Homo sapiens: one gene and its partners. The protein of the gene in region 1 purifies or fractionates together with the protein of each later gene. This does not show direct contact. Each region holds a gene or a part of one and is shown on either strand. Other genes may lie near its edges.

Region 1 (7,000 bases):
AGTATCTGAACTTACTGTAGTTATTTGTTTACAAATGATCTCTCTTGCTAAGCATCCTTCATTTAGAAAATCTTTGCTTCTATGTGCCAGGTCTGCTGGGGGAGGTGAGGGGTGCTGCACTGAATGCCCTGGGGAATACCAACTAGACATCCCACTGCATCTGAATAGTGTCCTACGGCATAGATAGGGCAGTGCCCCATGTCTGCAGCAAAGAAAGGAAAAATAGACATACCATACGATCCAGTAATCCCACTTCTGGGTATATACCCAAATTGAAAGCAAGGACTCAAACAGACATTTGTATACCTATGTTCACAGCAACACTACTCACAGTACACAGGCAAAAGGTGGAAGCAATCTATCAATGGATGAATGGATAAACAAAATGTGGAATATATTATTCACATTTAAAAAGGAAGACAGTTCCAACACATGCCATAACATGGGTGAACCCTGACACATTATGCAGAGTGAAATAAGCCACTCACAAAAGGACAAACACTGTGTCATTCCAGTTACATGAGGTACTGAGAGTAGTCAAATTCACAGAGATGGAAAGTAGAATAGCAGAATAGGGGCCAAGGAGGGGAGACAGTGTTTAAGGGGTATAGAGTTTCAGTTAGGACAGATGAAAAGTCCTGGAGACAGATGTTGGTGATGGCTGACAACAAGGCATATGTATTTAATGCCTCTGAACTGTGCACTTAAAAATAGTTAAAATGACAACTTTATGTATGTACATTTTACCACAATTTAAAATAAAGCTATGCTACTTGGCAAAAACAAACCAAACATAAGACAGAACCACCCATTTCGGTGGGATAAGTGCTTGAAAGGAGAAGATGGGAGGGATGGGAAGGCTTCCTGGAGTAGGTGACCCATGAGCTCTGAAGGATGAATAAGAGTGAGTGGAGACAAAGAGCCCAAGAGACGAGAGCAGGGCGGAATGTGCGAGACAGCAGACAGTAAGGCTTTACTTCAGTGCTTTACCCCCAGGTGCTGAATCAATGCTTTCCAAATGAACAAATGAATGCACAGCCCTACATGATAACAGTGATCCAAGTGCAGGGTAATAACGCCCCTGAATAAACTGACATTTCCAGAGCCCCGTTGCCTTTTGCTAAGCTTCATAGACATCACTGCATTTGTTTTCACACCTTCACTTCAGACCCAGGGTTTTTGTTTTTGCTTTTGTTTTTTTGAGACAGGAACTCGCTCTGTTGCTCAGGCTGCAGAGCAGCAGCGCGATCATGGCTCCCTGCAGCCTCAAACTCTCAGGCTCAAGTGGTCTCCCACCTCAGCCTCACAAGCAGCTAGGACTACAGACGCAGGCCACCATGCTCAGCTAATTTTTTTGGTTTTTTTTGTATTGAGACAGGGTCTCACTATGTTAGCCAGGCTGATCTCAAATTCCTGAGCTCAAGCTATCTTCTTGCCTTGGCCTCCCAACGTGCTGGGCGTGAGCCACCGTGCAGACCCAGGGATTCTTGAATTCTGTTCTCTGCAAATACTGATGTGTCTGCCACAAGCCAGACCCAGGGGTTACCACCAGATTAGAGTAATGACAATCCTTCCTAATATTTAGAAAAATATATCACTTAACAAAAAATGTTCTCAATTTTAAGTTTCACTCCCATATATATTTTCTTAGACTTTTAGTGCAAGCTTCCATTTGTCAGCTACCTATCAGCCAGATAAAACAAATGAACAAACGGCAAAAGAATATTAATGCAGAAAGCAGGAAACAAACAGCGAATCACTCTGAGTGTGACAGTCAGGTTTGCTTGTAGACATGTGGGCTTACAGTTATAATTTAATAGCGCATACATATGATATAGTCATATTTTTTGCTAGTCAGGATTTTGTAGTGCATATGATGGGACCAGATAGATGAACATCCTGCACGGAGTCAGCAAACAGCACCATGTGCCTTAAGCGAATTCGACCAGAATGACAGGAGAACAATGGTTTCAGACAGTCAAGTACAGGTCAGGTGTGGTGGCTCATGCTTGTAATCCTAGCACTTTGGGAGACCGAGGCGGGAGGATCACTTGAGGTCAGGAGTTTGAGACCAGCCTGGTCAACTTGGCAAAACCCTGTCTTTACTAAAAATACAAAAATTAGCGAGGCATGATGGTGGGTGCCTGTATTCCCAGCTATCTAGGAGGCTGAGGCAGGAGAACCGCTTAAACCCAGGAGGCAGAGGTTGCAGTGAGCTGAGATGGCACCACTGCACTCCAGCCTGGGTGACAGAGCGAGACTCCTTCTCATAAATAAATAAATAAATAAATAAATATAAATTCAACTCTTGCAGAAAAACCTTAGTTCCTTGGACTGGCTTGGATGTTTTCTAAAACTCCATCATCTTAATGTTTTAAGCAATTTCTCAGAGGGGCAGTTAAACCTACCTTCTTTAGGTTGATTTTTTTTACTATTTTTATTCAGTGGTGACCTTACCTACAGATGCAACATCCCTTTCCGCTGCTGACTGTTCTCTCTAAGGATTAGAAGTGGGAGTCCCACACCAGTGGAAAGACCTACAAAGTGAATTCTGTACTAAATGTGTTTCATCACCTGGATTTTGCAGAACCCAGGTAGGGTCTCACAGACTTACCTTCAGACACCACTGAGTTTTCCACAAGTTTATATTGCCATTTATATTAGACAATACTCACAAAACATTTTTATGGAGTACATTTGGGGCCATCTGAACGACTGCCTTCTAACTGCACTGCCATTTGGCGTCAGTGCGGCCCTCTCAGATGCCCCAGAGACACTTCAAACTCTCGACCTTGACTCCCCTGCCCCCAGGCTTCCTCTAGTGTTCCCTCTCTCCATCCAGTCATGTAGGCCAGAAACCTCAGTGATACTCTTGACCCTACCTTCCCCGCCATCTCACATACCTAAATCTATCACTAGTTCTAGAGATTTTAAAAAAGAGCAGCTTTATTGTACCTAAATCTATCACTAGTTCTAGAGATTTTAAAAAAGAGCAGCTTTATTGAGATATAATTCACATACCATAAAATTTGCCCTTAAAACACACACAGTTCAGTGGGTTTTAGTATAGTCACAGTTATGCAACCATCACCGTCGATCTAATTACAGAACATTTTAATCACTCGGAAAAGAAATCTGTATCCATCCATTAAGCAGTCATTGCCTGTTCCCCTTGACCCCAGCCCCCGGCAACCACTAATCTACTTTCTGTTGCTATTGATATACCTGTTCTGGACATTTTACATAAATGGAATTATACAACATATGATGTTTTTATGTGTGCTCTGGCTTCTTCCACTTAGCATGTTTTTGTGGTTTATCCACACTGTAGCATCTATCAGTACGTCATTCCATCTTATGGCTGAATAATATTCCCCTGTATGGATAGTCCACATTTTGCTTAACCATAATCAATTAACGGACATTTGGGATGTTTCCATGTTTTGGCTATGATGAAGAAAGCTGCCATGAACATTTGTGTATGATGTTTTCATTTTTATTTATTTATTTATTTTTGGAGATGGAGTCTTGCTCTGTCACCCAGGCTGGAGTGCAGTGGAGCGATCCTGGCTCACTGCAACCTCCGCCTCCCAGGTTCAAGCAATTCTCATGTCTCAGTCTCCCGAGTAGCTAGGACTACAGGCGTGCATCACACACAGCTGGCTAATTTTTTGTATTTTAGTAGAGATGGGTTTCACCGTGTTGCCCAGTCTGGAACTCCTGAGGTCAGGCAATCTGCCCAACTTGGCCTGTCAAAATGCTAGGATTACAGGCGTGAGCCACCGCGCCCGGCTGTGTATGATGTTTTTAGTTTCAATGTTGACATGTTTTCAATTCTCTTAGTTATACACTTAGGAAGTTTTATATATTTTTACCTATTAAATACTCCTTGGAAACATCTATTTCTCTCTATCTCTAAGCTACCAACATTCCCTCATCTGGACTAAAGCAAAAGCCTCCTCCCTTCTTTTTTCCAGGCCTCTTCTCTACCTGGCCCAGTAATCCCTTTTTTTTTTTTTTTTGAGATGGAGTTTTGCTCTTTTGCCCAGACGGGAGTGCAACGGCGTGATCGTGGCTCACTGCAACCTCCGCCTCCCAAGTTCAAGCAATTCTCCCACCTCAGCCTCCTGAGTAGCTGGGATTATTACAGGCACCCACCATCACGCCCAGATAATTTTTGGATTTTTGTAGTGATGGGGCTTCACCATGTTGGCCTGGCTGGTCTTCAACTCCTGACCTCAAGTGATCCACCCACCTCCACCTCCCAAAGTGCTGGGATTACAAGTGTGAACCACCGCTGAGTAATCCTTTCAGGACAGGAATCTGATCATGTTATCCCATTTTGCTTAAAAGTTTTCCCTGACATCCCTGAGGCCATGAGGCCTTCCATCCCACCCAGGCATTCTTTCTGCTCCTGGGGTGTGCCACAGGCCCCTCCCCATGGGCCCCAGGCATTTTCCTCTGCCTTGAAAGCTTTCCTCCACTCTGCCTGGTTTATGCCAACCCTTGGACCTCCACCTAGGCGTCCCCCTCAGAAAAGCCCTTCCTTGCCTCCCTGGGTGGTCTGGGCTCTCCTGGCGCCCCATCCCTGTGCTTCAGTGCATTTGTCACAGTTGCAGTTCTGCATCTGTTTGTGTAATTGCCCGATTACTGCCTGTCACCCTGCCAGGACTCCATCTGCTTTGGTTCGCCACTGTACCCTCAGTGCTAGCAGTTTCTGGCACATATAGTCTCTTGGTGAACATTTGTTGAATAAACCAACACACATGTGAACACATGAACATGGTGGACAAAACAGCCTTACAGAGTTGTCAGGGGGACTCCTCATTAAATAAGCATTTATTTGAAGATTATTAGATGGCAGAACATGTGATTATCCTGAACGACTTAAGACCTGACATTAGTCATACTGTTCTGTGCAATACACTTATGAGAACAAGCATTCTCTGCATTGATATTATTGAAGTCAAAATAGGAAATCTTATTACAAATATAACCAGATTAAAGGCTGTGTCTTTCCATTGTTAAACCTAACTCTGGTGATTTTGTTTCAGCAAAACAATGTTATCTGTCACGTTGAATAATGTTCATTTGCGGTTTTCTGATTTTGTTACTTTGATTATTTAGCTTACACTAGGGTTGTATTAAAGTACTTAAACATGAGGACTTATACCGAGATTTATGTTTAAACACATTTAAATAACAATAGAAGAAAATAACACTGGGTATCCAGGAGGATTTTTTTCTTTTAGAAACAAGATGGATATATCACTCATGTTGAGAACACTGAGGTACTGGATGGGGAGTTAGATCATGTGACCTTTCAGATCTCTCCAACCATAATATTCTACAATTTCAATCTTTTTTTTTTTTTTTTTTTTTTTTTTTGAGACGGAGTCTTGCTTTTGTTGCCCAGGCTGGAGTGCTGTAGCATGATCTCGGCTCACCACAACCTCCGCCTCCCGGGTTCAAGCGATTTTCCTGCCTCCGTCTCCTGAGTAGCTGGGATTACTGGCATGCGCCACGTCATCTCGCGCATTTTGTATCTTTAGTAGTGACAGGATTTCGCCATGTTGGCCAGGCTGGTATCAAACTCTTGACCTCAAGTGATCTACCTGCCTTAGCCTCCCAAAGTGCTGAGATTATGGGCATGAGCTACTCAGCCTGGCCTGATTCCCATCTTATATACCATCAAGAAACTGAGGCATGAAATATGGAGACTCTCTGAAGCTATACAGAAGGAATTCAGGAGGGAGTCAAAAGGAACAAGCAAAGCATCCTACACCAGACACCAGACAGGACCAGGGATTATTAACTGACAAAACTTTCCTAACCAAGAATGTTCCTAAAAGCATATTGGATAAAATGAATTATTTACTTGCATCTCAAAAATGTCCAAGGAAGAAATGAAAAACAAAACAAAATGTTCCCCAACATTAAATGAACAAAACACTAGAGAGCTTCTGCTAGGCCAAGTTCAGTTAAATATAAAAAGTTAATTATCACCAAAAAAATGTTAAGTATGTAAAGTAATGCATATGCTAATTAGCTTGATTTGGCCTTTCCACAATGTATACATATTTTAAAACATCATGTTGTATACCATAAATATATATGATTTTTAAAAATAAGTTTTTTAATAGAGACAGGGGTCTCACTATGTTGCACAGATTGGTCTTGAACTGGGCTCAAGTTATCCTCCTGTCTTGGCCTCCCAAAGTGCTGGGATTATAAGTATGAGCCACCAGGCCTGGCCAAATACATACAATTTTAATCTGTCAATTAAAAAAAGTCAAATAACTTACACTTAACACTTAGGAAGGCTGAATTAATCAAGCACATCTCTCAGATCTTATGTATTCAATGCCTATTATTAATTTGAAAGTTAGCCTTTAAGAAATGACACTTTCTAGTGCTCAGACAATTTGGGTCATTTAGCTATGTCAACCTGAAGGCACCTGCTGGTTGCTTAACAGGTAAACAAAGTGCCAAGTCCCAAATTTGCTGATTTCTTCCTCTTCTTCAATCATACTCGTAATACGCCTTAAAGACCAGTCTCAAATCCATTTCCCCCAAAGGATTTTTTGGCCTAATTGCTCCACTCCACGTTTACTTCTGCACTTTGCATAGTCCACGTTAAATTATCCTTCGTGTGTCTAAGGCGCTTCATAATAACTGTCTTGTTTCTTCTATCTAACCCCAGCAAGACAATAGGTTTGTTGTTAGAGGGACTAAGACTGATTTTGGGCCGGGCACAGTGGCTCATGCCTGTAATCCCAGCACTTTGGGAGGCTGAGGCAGGCGGATCATGAGGTAAGGAGTTCAACACAAGTCTGACCAACATGGTGAAACCCCATCTCTACTAAAAATACAAAAATTAGCCGGGCGTGGTGGCGTGCACCTGTAATCCCAGCTACTCAGGAGGCTGAGGCAGGAGAATCACTTGAACCCGGGAGGTGGAGGTTGCAGTGACCTGTGAGCCGAAATCACGCCACTGTAC
Region 2 (7,164 bases), on another chromosome or scaffold:
GGATCACTTGAGGCCAGAAGTTCAAGACCAACCTAAACAACATAGCAAGACCCCCATCTCTGCAAAAATTAAATAAAATGAAATTTTAAATTTAGCTGAGTGTGGTGGCATGTGCCTGAGGTTCTAGCTACTTACACGAAATAATTTCTTTTTTTTTTTTTTTTTTTTTGAGACGGAGTCTTGCTCTGTCACCCAGGCTGGAGAGCAGTGGCGTGATCTGGGCTCACTGCAAGCTCCACCTCCCAGGTTCATGCCATTCTCCTGCCTCAGCCTCCTGAGTAGCTTGGGACTACAGGCGCCCGCCACCGCGCCCGGCTAATTTTTTCTATTTTTAGTAGAGATGGGGTTTCATCGTGTTAGCTTGATCTGACCTCGTGATCTGCCCGCCTTAGCCTCCCAAAGTGCTGGGATTACAGGTGTGAGCCACCGCGCCTGGCCACAAAATAATTTATAAAAGCTGCAATATGGTTTTTGATATATCAGATATTACATAATAACTACAATAGATTTAGATTATGACTTCTCTGGTAAACCAAGTGATATAGTTTGGATGTTTGTCCCCTCCAGATCACATGTTGAAATGTGATCGCCAGTGTTGGAGGTGGGGCCTGGTGGGAGGTGTTTGGGTCATGAGGGTGGATCCCTCATCCCCTCCCCACTGTAATGAGTTCAAGAGTCTGGGATCTCTGTCATCTTTCTTGCTCCCTCTCTCACCATGTGACATACTTGCTCTCACTTCACCTTCCACAATGAGTAACAGCTTCCTGAGGTCTCACTGGAAGCCAGACAGATGCTGGTGCCATGCTTGTATAGTCTGCAGAACCACGAGCCAAATAAACAACTTCTTCTTCTTTTTTTTTTTTTAATAAATTACCCAGCCTCAGGTATTCCTTTATAGCCATGCAAAATGGACTAATAAACCAAGGAAAGCCAGAATATAGTTCTGACATTCCAGACACGTCCTGCAGGTAAGAGCAAGGTCATAGATAATAAAACCCTTGCTTGGTGGTTCAAAACAGCAAACATTTATTATCTCAGTTTCTGTGGGTTGGGAATCTAGAAGCAGCTTAGCCTAGCTGGGTGGTTCTGGCCCAGGGTTCTTGTAAGGCTGCACTCAAGGTGTCAGCCCATGCTGCAGTCTCTCAAAGCTCAACTGGGGTTTGATCCACTTCCAGACTCACTCATGTTTCTGGTGGTAAGTCTCAGTTCTTTGCCATGCAAGCTTCTCCACGAGGTCTGTGTCACTACATGGCAACTAGTGTCCTTCAGAGAAAGTGTCCAAGATGGAAACTACAGTCTTCTTTAATATTTTAAGTGGCATCTCATCACTTCAGCTGCATTCTGTTAGTCCAGCTTATAATTGGGGGTAGAGGATTCCACAGAGATCAGCAGTCAGGGATTGTTGGTGAGCTCTTAGAGGCTGTCCACCACAATAAGAAAGCAGCAGATCATGTCTTCCATTCTCCCAAGATATTTTATCTTTCAGTAGAATGATACCTAGTAGCAGACTAACAACCATATGGACAAGCAGGATGCTGAATCTCAATATATGTAAGATGGAATATAACAGAATGACCAGAAATTAGAATTTCATTTTCATATGCTGTTGTTCAATTATTTTTTCACTTTTAGTATGGATTAATTAAAAGGATTGAGTTTGTCATTATGAGAACTTGAACTTTTATTGTTATAAACTGAGGACATCAATGTATGTTATTCTGGATTTTCAACTATTTTGATGTGAGATTTTATAAATGTTATGAGTTATATATGTTAGCACATGTGGAATGGTGACTGAAGAATTTGTTTGCACAATTTAGAATGATCTTGTCCTTTTAAAATACCAGTTTAGTTTACTTGGTATACCAGGCTCTCTTTTGACATTAATGTAACTTTTGAGACATTAGGTTAGACATAGCTTAGCTTTAAATTCTGTCCAAAAGCAATTTATGGTATGCCTGTATTGTATTAGGTGCTAGAGTAAATGAGGTTATACTACTTTTCAATTTTTTTTTTTGAGACGGAGTCTTGCTCTGTCACCCAGGCTGGAGTACAGTGTCGCGATCTCTGCTTACCGCGACCTCCGCCTCCTGGGTTCAAGCCATTCTCCTGCCTCAGCCTCCTGAGTAGCTGGGATTACAGGCACTTGTCACCACACCCAGCTAATTTTTGTATTTTGAGTAGACATGAGGTTTCACCACATTGGCCAGGCTGGTCTCCCAACTCCTGACCTCGTGATCCACCTGTCTCGGCCTCCCAAAGTGCTGGGATTATAGGCGTGAGCCACCACGCGGCCTGCTTTTCAGTTTATAATCTGTTTTGGAATGAAAGACGGCCTGAAATGTACAGATATCATGTTTAGGCAGAATCACCAGTAGGTGTTGGTTATATAAAGTATGTTGTATGATGAAAAATATCTTATAACTTTAAAAAGTATGTGCTAGTAAGGAAGGATTGGCAAGATACACTGTTAGTGAAAACAGCAAACAAAACAACATTTATAACATCCTGAGGGTGGCGTTTGTGTGTGTGGATGAGGGAGCTATGTATACATGTGTAAGTGTACCCATGGACAGTGTTTGGAAAGACTTTATAAGAAACTTGGTGATGGTTCCTTCTGGGGAGTACGACTCTGAGGGTCTTGTGTAGGAAGATGGACTTTTCATTGTACGCTTTTTCAAAAAAAATTTTACATAATATTTTTGTTTAAAAAAATTGCCCAGTCTCTGAACATGGCTTTAAGAAATGTGTCTAATAATATATACATATACCCACTGTTATTTTAGTGATTTTTTTCTGAATATTGAAATGGACCCATTTGCAGGAAAGCTTGATTTGAGCTGTGAAGTTTGTTTTCAAAGCCTATACTGGCAGAGGCTCATGTTTACTTACCATATTATTTTCTTTATAGGGAGACCAAATTTTGAGGAAGGTGGACCAACATCAGTAGGGAGAAAGCATGAATTTATACGCTCAGAAAGTGAAAATTGGCGCATCTTTAGAGAGGAACAAAATGGAGAAGATGAAGATGGAGGTTGGCGACTAGCTGGATCAAGGAGGGATGGAGAGAGGTGGCGACCTCACAGTCCTGGTAAGAATTCTGTTGAGTAAAGGCACACAGGGACTGAAATAAGGGAAAGTTTGATGGAAATAGGGATTAAATGAAAAAGATAAACTGGCTTAAAAAATGTGGGGGTGGATTCATATTATTTATGCTGTCACAGTTTTATTACTAGAAAAAATTGCAACATAAAAATTTCCTACATCTATTCAGTTGATTGAAATCACTTTTCTATTTTTCTGGGGCAAATAGTGTAGTTTAATGGGAAGCACCTGCGCTCAACTGCAGAAATGAGGGTTTCATTCAGTTTTGTCTACCTCTAAATCTCTGAATCTTTTTTAGCATTCTTTAAGATTTATAAATGTGTAAAAATTACACACTTGAAATATGTGCTTCCCTCCCCAACAATGAGTGTTTTTCCTAACAAGAAAGGGTTTATTCTTTCATTTTTTCCCTTTTGAAAATGTGATTTAACCTTATTTGAAGAATAAGCTTTAAACCTAGGTCAGAAACATAATCACAAGTTCATTCTTATGTCCTTCTAACTTTAGAAGAAGGAGAGACAATAGTAGTGATTAGTGGCTTTTAAAGTTCTTCTGTTTGTCTCTTAAAAATGCTCAAACTGTTCTTCTTGGACATTAGATATGCTAGTAATTGAAGACACTAGTGCTTTGTGTTAAAGTTCATCCTGTACCACAGTGCTGATTCCATGCCTCATGATAATCAGATGCAACTGTAGTTCCAATTGTGGGGTCATGCAAAACTGAAGCACACAGAGTATATGTGGAATGCCCTATGAATTTCATGTGTATGACAGTATTTTATCAACCATGTGCCAGAGGGGCTTACCTTTAATACAGGAAATTATGATAAGTAAACTGTTTTCACTTTTAAAAATCAAGTTATTAGCAAAACCACTAGCTTAGATCTGGGTAGACATTATAACAGGCATTCAGAGTATTTTAAGGAAGTGGTAGGTAGATAGAAACATACTGAAGTTAATGTTTGGGTAGAGTTAGGATGGTTTTATACCAACTCTTCATGGCTGCCTCTTGGGTGGGTTTTCTGTCATTAGTGGGCATTGTTTACATCACAAGGTCTAGACAATTTTCATTAGTCTGTGACCTGGGCCAGATGTTATAGTTCTCTAAAAGGCATCACTGCATTTTATGCTGAGCTTGTCCGTAGGCAGAGGGTTTGTAGACTATGTTCCCAACAAGCATTCAGTGAAGAATGGATAGGATCTGGGCTGAGAGAGAAAAGAAATTCCAGCTGGTCAAAAACAAACAAGGTGAATGTTTTGGAAGATGAACTGTGTTTTTTGAGCCCAAATGTCTGATGTTGATTCTATTAAAGGGAGTTTAACAAAGTACCTCCCACCCAACAACTTAGAATTTGGTTATATATTATCTTCTTCTCATCTTTTCTGAATCTTTCTTTCCCCCTAATATTTGACTTTCATATCATTTTTGTCATCAACTTGTGTATCTTCCAGAACTTTTAATCCATATACATATATATTTTTTCAGTCACACCTGTGGCTGAAATCCATATATTTTTAAAAGACAGTTTGGGGGATATAAAGATCCCCCAAATATAAAGTTTGGGTCTGAAAAAACAGTGTAAATGCATTTTAAAAAAGAATACGATTCACTTTTTAAACCCAGTATATTCAAAGTATAGCCTGATTATAGCAGTTTTCATATGTTAACTCTTAACGTTTGTTAGTTTATGGTTAATCTTTTATTAAGATTTGAGTAAAACTTTAAATTATTTTAACTGATTTTATGAAAATAGTATCCAACTTTAGTTTAGATGTAGGGTCTGTAAATCAGCAGTCAGCCTTAATAAGTACCTTGCATGTCTTACTTGCTATGTTTAGTTTCGTGAGTAAAATTTTATGAACTACTGATAAGATAACATTATGGGATATAAAATAGGGCTTCCGGCTGGATGTGCGTGGGGGTGGGAACATTAAGGACAGGGAGGCATCCAGTCTGGGAGCTGAACCTAGGAAAGTCAGTAAGAGGAGAAACATGAGCCAGGTACCTAGAAGGATAGATTCCTGTCATGATGTACATTTAGACTGTTAGAAATGAAAGCAGTACAGAGGGCTCTGGAATTCATTTGATCATGAAGACTCTTTTCACATAATGGCTCTAGGTTTCCACGTAAGCAGTCTGAGTATAAAATTCCTTAGTTCTCATAGGAAGTAGTAAATAGTGTTTTGTTGTTTTTATATGAAGGGATGGGAGTGTGGGACTAAGATTTCTTTTTTGTGAGTGGCTTATCAGATGCTACCTGTATTTGGCATTTTAACGTTTTGCCCTTTGTTTTCCAATTTGATTTTTAGATTGCTGGTTTTTGCAAAGTTTGTCTCAATAGTGAGAACATTTAACTCTGGCCACATTTCTTTTTCTTATCCCCCACAGAGAAAGCAGTCAAGGATGGAAAATTCTAATAGGTTAAAGCCTGCTTTTCTTTTTAAGACTCTTTTAGACTCAGGTCTGTCAGATTTTAGCAAGAGTTTCCCTTTCTTTTTTTTAGAAAAATATCTTAAGTAGGATCTCTTATTATTAGGCAATCTTTTCTTCTGTTGGGAAATGTAGATTTGGGAATGTCCGTAGGGGTATTATATGGATAGGGAGAATTAAGAGATGAGAAAGAAGGGAGAGGAGTAAGTATGTTATTGTGGAACAAGCAGCAGAGGGTGCAGAATTGGATTTTAGTTCTACTTTGCCATGTGCGAGTTACTTCTGCTGGCAAAGTTTTAGTTTCTTCTTAAACTATAAAATTAGGATAGTGAACTTCATAAAATCTCTGTGACAACTTTCAGCACTGTAATTTTGTGAATTTTTGGGGGAGGATCAGAATTACAAGTGGGAACCTGGCATTAATAAATAGTCATGATGAGTTTGATATAAGTCAACACAGGGAGCTGATTTTATCCACAAACAATGATATTTTCATGGGAAGAAAGAAAATGCTTTAAGATTGGGCAAAAGGAAGGTGTAAACTTCAGTATGGAAGGATGTCTAGTGCATTAAGTCTGGATGAGGAGTTGGCGGCTAATCAGTATTTTAATCAAGTACCTAGGACTTACTGAAAGTGCGTACTTGGAATACAGTGTCCTTTAAATGTACTGCATTTTAGATTTATCTTTTAAAGCTTTAGAGTATGTTGCCTGGCTCAGTACTTAAGTACTGTTGTCATCTCGTAATGGTACATATACTCTGAACTCTGAACTTCATTTAGTTGCCTAATGTTCTCTTTACTAGGTCAGTCCATTTGAGTTTGCGGTCACTTGTAGTTTTCTCCTTTATTTTCTATTCCTGATTTTCTTATTCAAATACTGTCATAAAACTTTTCTAAGGTTTGTGTCCTCCTTCTCATCTCAGATGGCCCTCGTTCTGCAGGCTGGCGGGAACACATGGAACGACGTCGGAGGTTTGAGTTTGATTTTCGAGATAGAGATGATGAACGGGGTTACCGAAGGGTTCGCTCTGGCAGTGGGAGCATAGATGATGACAGGGATAGCTTGCCCGAATGGTGCTTAGAGGATGCTGAAGAAGAAATGGGTACATTTGACTCATCTGGAGCATTCCTTTCTCTAAAAGTAAGAAACGTGTTTTAAATGTCATGACCAGCATTAACCTTATACCAAAGCCAAATCTGCTGTTGATCTTTGGTTTTATTCTCTTTCTACAGAAAGTACAGAAAGAGCCTATTCCAGAAGAGCAGGAGATGGACTTCCGGCCTGTGGACGAAGGGGAGGAGTGCTCTGACTCTGAGGGTAGCCATAATGAAGAGGCCAAAGAACCCGATAAGACAAATAAGAAAGAAGGAGAGAAAACAGATAGAGTAGGAGTTGGTAAGGCCTCTTCTTGCCCTTTGCCTTTTTTTTCCTCCATCAAACCAAAACTTTCGTAAGTTCAACTAAGATTACTTCGTGTTCCAGAAGCTAGTGAGGAAACTCCCCAGACCTCATCATCATCTGCTAGACCAGGTACTCCTTCAGACCATCAGTCTCAGGAAGCATCACAGTTTGAGAGGAAAGATGAACCAAAAACTGAGCAAACGGAAAAAGCTGAAGAGGAGACTCG
Region 3 (8,050 bases), on another chromosome or scaffold:
GTACAGTAGCACGATCTTGGCTCGCTGCAACCTCTGCCTCCTAGGTTCAACTGATTCTCCCACCTCAGCCTCCCAAGTAGCTGGGATTACAGGCTCCCGGCACCACGCCTGGCTAGTTTTTGTATTTTTAGTAGAGACATGGTTTCACCATGTTGGCCAGGCTGGTCTTGAACTGCCCGCCTTAGCCTTCCCAAGTGCTGGGATTACAGGCGTGAGCCACCGCGCCCAGCCTTATTCTTCCTTTCTTAATGACTAAGATCAATTCCTTCATTTCTTTTTAATAGTTATGGAGTAGAAGCGTCACTATAATTTATTTACCAAACCTCATATGAGTATTTAAGTAGCTAACAAGGACAGTGTTATTTCAGGAACAACAGAAAATTTTAAGTGTAAATGGATGAGTAATTGTTTAGTTTCAAATACAGGATGAAGAACAGACTATACTCTGAGAAATACTGATATATTGTTAAGTAAATTCTAACTCAGATGTATCACAGTGCTTAGATCTTTAAAACAGGACACTATATGCTGGGCATGGTGGCTCATGCTTGTAATCCCAGCACTTTGGGAGGTGGAGGTGGGAGGATGGCTTGAGCTCAGGAGTTTGAGACCAGCCTGGGGAACATAGTGAGAACTTGTCAATACAAATAAAATAAAATAAATAAATAAAACAACACTATGAGGCATAAAGGAAACATCTGACATATATGTATATATTAAAGACAGGAATGAAAATTCCATTTAATAAATTTTTGCATTTTTTAATTTGGTTTTTAAATTGAGGTATAACTTATTACTGAAAGGTGCATAAATTTTAAATGTACAGTAAAATAAAATTGTATACATGTATAAAACCTTATAATCCTAACCCAGATCAATATATAGAACATCTCCAGCACCTCTGAAAGCTCCCTTTAATTCTCTCTTTCCTGACTCCATTAATATCTACTTCAAAAGTAACTATCATTTTGACTTTTTTTAATTTTATTTTTTTTACACAGAGTTTTGCTCTGTCGCCCAGGCTGGAGTGCAGTGGCGTGATCTCGGCTCACTGAGACCTCCACCTCCCGGGTTCAAGCAATTCTCCCGCCTCAGCCTCCCGAGTAGCTGGGATTGCAGGTGCGTGCCACCACACCCGGCTAGTTTTTTGTATTTTTAATAGAGATGGGGTTTCACCATGTTGACCAGGCTGGTGTCAAACTCCTGACCTTGTGCTCCGCCCATCTTGGCCTCCCAAAGTGCTGGGATTTACATGCATGAGCCACCGCGCCCGGCCGTAAGCTTAACATCTTTAGACCTCATGAAGTGTTGGCAATGATGTTGAGAAAATAGAGAAAATGGAACTACATTGCTGGTGGAAACATAAAACTTTACAACTGTTTTTGGAAAACAGTTTGACAGTTTCTTTAAAAAGCTGAAGATAACCTATCATATCATTCTACTCCTAGGTATTTACCCAGGAAAAATTAGTTTATGTTTATACGAAGATTCGTACACAGATATTCACAGAAGCCTTATTTACAGTCGTCAAAATGGAAAACAAACCAAATATCTCTCAATGGGTGAATGGAAAAACAAATTGTGGTATATCCACACAGCGGAATCCTCCTCTAATAAAAAGGAATGAACTGTTGATTCAAGCAACTACACAGGTGAATCTCAAAATAATTATGCTGAGTGAATTAAGACAGATAAAAAAGAACACATACTATATGATTTCACCTGTATAAAATTTTAAAAAATGCAAACAACTCATAGTGACAGAAAGACGATCAGTTATTTTGAGGGGCCATGGTGAGGAGGCCTTGACGGGCAGGAAGGATTCCGGGATATTCTGGAATTTTTATTCTGGATATAAAGGTACTTCAGGAAAATTTTGAAAGTCTGGATATGTTCATTATCTTGATGGGGTTGATGGCTTCACTGGTGTATACATACGTCAAAATGTATCAAAATTACACATTATGTGCAGTTTATTGTCAATGATATCTCAATAAAGTTGTTAACATTTTTTCAGTAATGTAGTTATCCTTTCATTCATAATTTTTTTCACAAATCAATATAAAATGATTTGTATTGTTTTTTATGACATTAACAATTCCATAGCAAGAGAAATGTCATTTTATTTCTCTTCTTTTACTCATTAATTCATTCAGCAAACATTTAAAGTGCCAGACATTAGGGTGCCGGAGAAACAAAGATAAAGCTTTGAAATTAGTAGGGGTAGAGAAGTGGCATTTACTGAGTACCCATTCTGCAACACCTACTGTTTTTACATATATCATTTACTTTTCACAAAACAGAAGACATACATTTTCATATATTCGATTTTACAGATGAAGACATTAAATCTGAAGTGGTTAACAGCAACAAAACTGGGACTGAAATCCAGGTTCGTGGTACTCCGAAGTCATAGTACTTTCCATCAAAACACAATACCAGAGTTTTATTCATTTATTTTTTGAGTCGGAGTTTTGCCCTTGTTGTCCAGGCTGGAGTGCAGTGGCACGATCTCAGCTCACTGCAACTCCTGCCTCCTGGGTTCAAGCGATTCTCCTGCCTCAGCCTCCCGAGTAGCTGGGATTACAGTCACCCACCACCACGCACAGCTAATTTTTTTTTATTTTTAGTGGAAGATGGGGGTTTCACCATGGTGGCCAGGCTGGTCTGGAACTCTTGACCTCAGGTGATCCACCCGCCTCAGCGTCCCAAAGTGCTGGGATTACAGGCGTGAGCCACGGTGCCCTGCCCACACCTTACAGAGTCCTGAGGGGAGTGGAACAATCCTAACTTTTTCTGAAGAAGTCAGTGAAGGCTTTGCCATTGAGGCTCTACTGTTTGAGATGCAGTAGATGCTGTGCAATATTTAGAGTTTTAAAGGAGTGCGTTATTGACGACCTAAGGGCAAATTATATATTATCTGACAGAAGTAACGTTTTCTTATTCATTGTTCCTGTAGTACTTTGCTTATGTGGTCTATAACTCATTCACTTCATACCTCAGTGAGTTGTAGTTAAGCTTGTAATTGACAATTACAGTGGAGTGGAAGCTGCCATTTGTATTTTAATAACACAATTTTTTTGGGGGGGTGCAGAGTCTCACTCTGTCTCCAGGCTGGAGTGCAGTGGCACAATCTTAGCTCACTGCAACCTCTGCCTCCCGGGTTCAAGCGATTCTCCTGCCTCAGCCTCCCGAGTAGCTAGGACTATAGGCACGCGCCACCATGCCTAGCTAATTTTTGTATTTTTAGTAGACAGGGAGTTTCACCATGTTGGCCAGAATGGTCTTGATCTCTTGACCTCATGATCCGCCTGCTTCAGCCTCCCAAAGTGTTGGGATCACAGGAGTCAGCCACCGCGCCCGGCCAATAACACAATATTTTTAAGCACCTACTATGATCTGTGATAAATCCTCTTATACGGATACATTATTCACAGCTCGCGAGTTAGTGTCTCTATCTCCTTTTTACAAAGAAACAGGCTGCAAAATAAAAATTACCTAAGGGTGTAAAATAATAAAAACACTTAAGCCATGTAACATTAGCAACTATCTCTATTTTTCTGTAAACTTTTATTTTGGAGCCACATTAAACAACTATTTTTGTAGTCAAACACATTCAAATGCATGAATAAATTACGTTCCAAGCCACTTACAAATATAAACTAAATTTGGATTACTCTTATTTCTTTCTATTGTGCATAGCAAAAAGCTGAGGAAGCTTTTAATTATCTCTAGAACTCAACATTTGCCTTTGATGTGAAGTATCATCATTTCAAAAACACAAGCTAAAACTGAAGTGGTGTTCAGTATAATGAGGTTGGTTTCTTATATAGCATTATTAACTTTATGTTCTGAGAAATGAGGACATTTAATAGCAGGTTATAGATTCATGCATCAACAACATTCAGCATTACCACCTAAGGCCAGTGCTATGTCTAAAAAGCTATATTTAATACTCGCAATGTTACACACAATTATGTCTTCAATGAATGTTCAGTGAATCCTTCTTTATGATGCTGATAAATATCGTCTATATAGCTAAAATCGTTTACATAGCTAAGGGCAAATCGCTGTTTACTAGGGATAGTAATGCCGAACGGAGTGAATACATGAAGTCGTAAATTATATGAATGCAGGGTGACCTAATATAGCCAGGGTCTCAATTTAATAATATATACCCGTTTAAAAATAGCCTTATTTCCTTCTCTAAAGCTTGGACTCTTTTTTTTTTTGAGATAAGGTCTCACTCACTTTGTCGCCCGGGCTGGAATGGAGAGGCCCGATCTCAGCTCACTGCAGCCTCGACCGCCTGGGCTCAGGGGATCCTCCCACCTCAGCCTCTTCAGTAGCTGGGACTACAGGTCTGCACCACAGGGCCGGCTAGTGTTTGTATTTTTTGTAGAGACGGAGCCTCGCTATGTTGCTCAGGCTGGTCTCGAACACCTGAGTTCAAGCGATCCGCCCTCCTAGGCTTCCCAAAGTGCTGGGATTACAGGAAGGAGCCACCGCACCGGCCTGGGCTAAATCTGATTCCAAGTTTACACAAGTTTGTTGAATGCCCACTGTGTGCTTAATGAAAGATCAAAGTTTGATAAAACAAGGTCCCTGCTCTTACTGAGCGCATAGCTTTCTCAGATTATCAGGAACCAAATTTGGAAAATAATCCAGAACGCTGGCGTAGGTAGCTCAAGGTTCCCCGCTTGCAACATTTAGTCCAAACCAGTCAATTCTAGGCGGCGGATTTCCCCATCCCCCTCCGTCGCCCAACCTTTGGGTGGGGCCACTCCCAAACGCTCCCTCCCCTCGTCCCGCCATGCACAGCAGTGCGCATGCGCCCTCAGGGAGGCGGACAGTGACCCTGAGGCATTGCCGTCGCGCGGTGCACAGCTAAGACGTCGCGCTTGCGCAGGCGCTCGGCGCAGAGGCCTGCGGGAAGCCAAGATGGCGCATAGGGGTTCTCCAGGCTGCAGTTGGCGCCTTATCAGTATCTAAGCGGAGTGTTTTGGAAGGAGTTAAGGGGCTGTGGCAAACGCCCTCTCCGCCGTCATGGCCCGGCATCGGAATGTTCGAGGCTATAACTACGATGAAGGTAGGTGGCAGGGTCATGCCGGGACGTTCTTTTCCCGGCTACAGCTGGGATCCTAGCCCGTTGGCATCCACTTCAATCTGTGAGTTTCTCGTCAGTGTTGCCCTGTCGGGATTGGGAGAGCCCCAGTTGGGGAATATAACAGGCCTTCTAGTGCTTTCAAATGCCGTCGTTTTTAAGTCATGATTTCTGCCCTCTGGGGTTGATTTTATTTGGGGAGGGGGAGGTGCTGCATAGCGTCATATGGGTAGGATATTGGTGAGGTTGAGATCCGGTGATATTTAGGCACGTAAGCATTATCACCTCTTCCATTGTTTCCTCCCATGTTGGGCACTAACGTGCCTGCTTCTAGCTCCTCTCTCCCAGATCCCCTTTGAGAAATGTCCATGAAACGTTGCTTATTTGTAAAACACAGATTGACTTAATACATTCAACGGACGTGTACCTGTGTTAGATTTACATGGTAAACCTTTTGTGTATGTCCATACATACCTAGTGCAGAATCAGTTTGCGCTAATTTATTTTTCAACGAATTTCAAAGTGGAAACTTAGGAGACGGTAGAAAAGACACATGTTAAAAAGGCCCAAAGAATGAGTCGATCAGATGGATCTTGAAGTTTATACTTAGTTCTTGGCTGGTAATGCTTGATATAAATGTATTTTGAAATGTAAATAAACGGCAGTACTAGAGGAAAGAGTGTATAGGAAAGGACTTTTTGATATTAAAAAATGAAATAAAAATGTCTGTATGAATGTTCTGTAGGAGTTAACAGGAGTTAGAATTATTTTTAGGAGGAGCACATCCCTCTTCATGCAGTAGATAACTATAGGCATCACCAAGCATCACATAAACTAAAAATATAAACAAAAATGAACTAATGCAGGAGAAGAATAAAGAACTATGCTTTACGAAGTGCAGAACATGTAGTGCTTAATATGTTGGTGATTGTCATTGGCACCCCAGTAGATTATTATAGAACATCAGTATGCTTTAACTAGAGTGAGGGCAGCTAACACCCTGTTCTCCATTTGGAACCTGTGACCTCAGTCCGTCTAGAACATGTGAATTTTCTGGTGGTTACTTTAGAATGGAGGCCCTTTTAAATAAATATTGCAGTGGATGGTATTGCATGTGGACCATTGTCACCTAAGAAATGACTTTAGATTGAGAGAGATTTTTGCAAATATAAAGTACATGAATAGGCCTATTTATTATTCATTCATTTCTTTAATAGTTGTTTATCATTTCCTCAACCACCATTAAGTTAGTGCTTAGAGTACTGTTCTAAGCTTTGAGGACTGAAAGTAAGATATTTGAGGGTGGTCTAAAAGGAGAAGATTATACGAGTTACAGATTATTAGAGTATGAAAAATGCTACAAAAGGTACTGAGAAAACGCTATGGGAGGGATACACAGATGAGAACACTTAATTCAGAATGGATTGGGGGGAATTTAAGCAGGATTTCTACGTTAAGGAATGCTTCATGGAGGAGAGGTGGTTGGCCTCAGGGAGCACCTTGGCTTCTTGAGGTTAGGTTGTCATGTTGTCATGCTTCTTTGAAACAATTGGTGACATCATAACCAAGCTGTTCCTGTAACATTAAGGAGGTTCATCCCCTTTTCTTGTTTATAAAAGTTGTACTCATTAAGGTCCAGTTTATTTCTCTTCTTCCCAGTTAGGCTTTCTCTTGAATTCTCAGAATAATAATTTAAAAATTCTGTTAAGAAATATAACCTCATTAGAGAGAGTTTGTGTTCTAAAACCTACTGGTTCCGCTACTTAACTCCCACTTTGTTTTTCTCTGTAATTTATGTAATACTTTACATGACTGCCTCAGTCACTGATTTAAAAGTCTCAGGAAGGCAAAATCCATACTTTAAGTAGCTGGCACAATGTTCTTTACATGTGGTAAATATTTCATAATTTTGTTGATTGAGGAAACAAACTATGAAGATTGCAGGAAAGAATTCTCTTCATCTTTATATGTTGTGGCACTTTAGGGTCAACTTCAGCATTGACAAACTGACCTAGTAAAAAAGAGTTTTTTTTCTTTTTTTTTTTTTTTTAAGAGACAGGATCGCACTTTGTTGGTTGGCCAAGCTGGAGTGCGAGTGCAGTGGCATGATCATAGCTCTCTGTAACCTCCAACTCCTGGGCTCAAGCAATCCTCGTGCCTCAGCCTCCCGAGTAGCTAGGTCTACAGGCATGTGCCCCCATGCCCGGTTAATTTTTTATTTTAGTAGAGACAGCATCCGGCTGTGTTGCCCAAGCGAGATCCTCCCTCCTCGGCTTCCCAAAGTACTGGAATTACAGGTGTGAGCCACGATGCCTGGCCTATTGTTGTCTTCAATATCTAAAAATACTTTGTTTGTGAATGGCCCCTTGTTTATTTGCAAATAAATTTTTATTAACTTGGGATTGTGATCTAATAATTTATTTAATCATATATGTTTTTGCCCAATAGTAGCATTTATCTAATTTTTCTTTGCTGTAAGCATTTGGTCTCAGCCTTTGAGCATGCTGTTCCTGCTGCATGAATACCCTCAGAAACTAGCTAACTCTATCCTTTGGAATTGGTTTGGATATTATATTAATGGGGATCTTTCCCTAGCTGCCCCACTCCCGGTTCTAGTTTTGTCATTCATGTGTGTGTTCCCAAATTGCTCTGTGTTTCTCACATCAGGCACTTGTCACATGGTTTTGTAATTGCCCATTATCTTGTGTGTATTCCTTGTCAGATTTTAGGTGCAGTGATAACTGGAAATGTGTTCACTGTTATACCACAGTTGTCTCAACTACTCCCTGGCATGGTGTTAGTGTTTGTCAAATGAAATTTATGTAAATATATTTATGTTCTTTGTGGGTTTTTAGTTGTAATTAGTTTGATTCATTAATTTATAATAAAACAAATATTAATCTAGTGCCCCATATGTGCCAGGTAGTTGGCTAAACCAAGTCTTGC

The links.
Region 2: the proteins of DIS3L (region 1) and GIGYF2 purify together in Homo sapiens (affinity purification with mass spectrometry; 3 studies listed by BioGRID and IntAct, with this or other methods). This does not show direct contact.
Region 3: the proteins of DIS3L (region 1) and HBS1L purify together in Homo sapiens (affinity purification with mass spectrometry; 5 studies listed by BioGRID and IntAct, with this or other methods). This does not show direct contact.

The regions. Positions count from the first base shown.
Region 1 is NC_000015.10:66,296,568-66,303,567, reverse strand, and holds part of DIS3L (DIS3-like exonuclease 1), read right to left. Parts: intron 1-7,000. UniProt on the Homo sapiens protein: Catalytic component of the RNA exosome complex which has 3'->5' exoribonuclease activity and participates in a multitude of cellular RNA processing and degradation events.
Region 2 is NC_000002.12:232,784,239-232,791,402, forward strand, and holds part of GIGYF2 (GRB10-interacting GYF protein 2), read left to right. Parts: intron 1-2,911; coding exon 2,912-3,091; intron 3,092-6,459; coding exon 6,460-6,677; intron 6,678-6,769; coding exon 6,770-6,932; intron 6,933-7,019; coding exon 7,020-7,164. UniProt on the Homo sapiens protein: Key component of the 4EHP-GYF2 complex, a multiprotein complex that acts as a repressor of translation initiation. In the 4EHP-GYF2 complex, acts as a factor that bridges EIF4E2 to ZFP36/TTP, linking translation repression with mRNA decay.
Region 3 is NC_000006.12:135,051,688-135,059,737, reverse strand, and holds the start of HBS1L (HBS1-like protein), read left to right. Parts: upstream 1-4,915; 5' UTR 4,916-5,046; coding exon 5,047-5,089; intron 5,090-8,050. UniProt on the Homo sapiens protein: GTPase component of the Pelota-HBS1L complex, a complex that recognizes stalled ribosomes and triggers the No-Go Decay (NGD) pathway.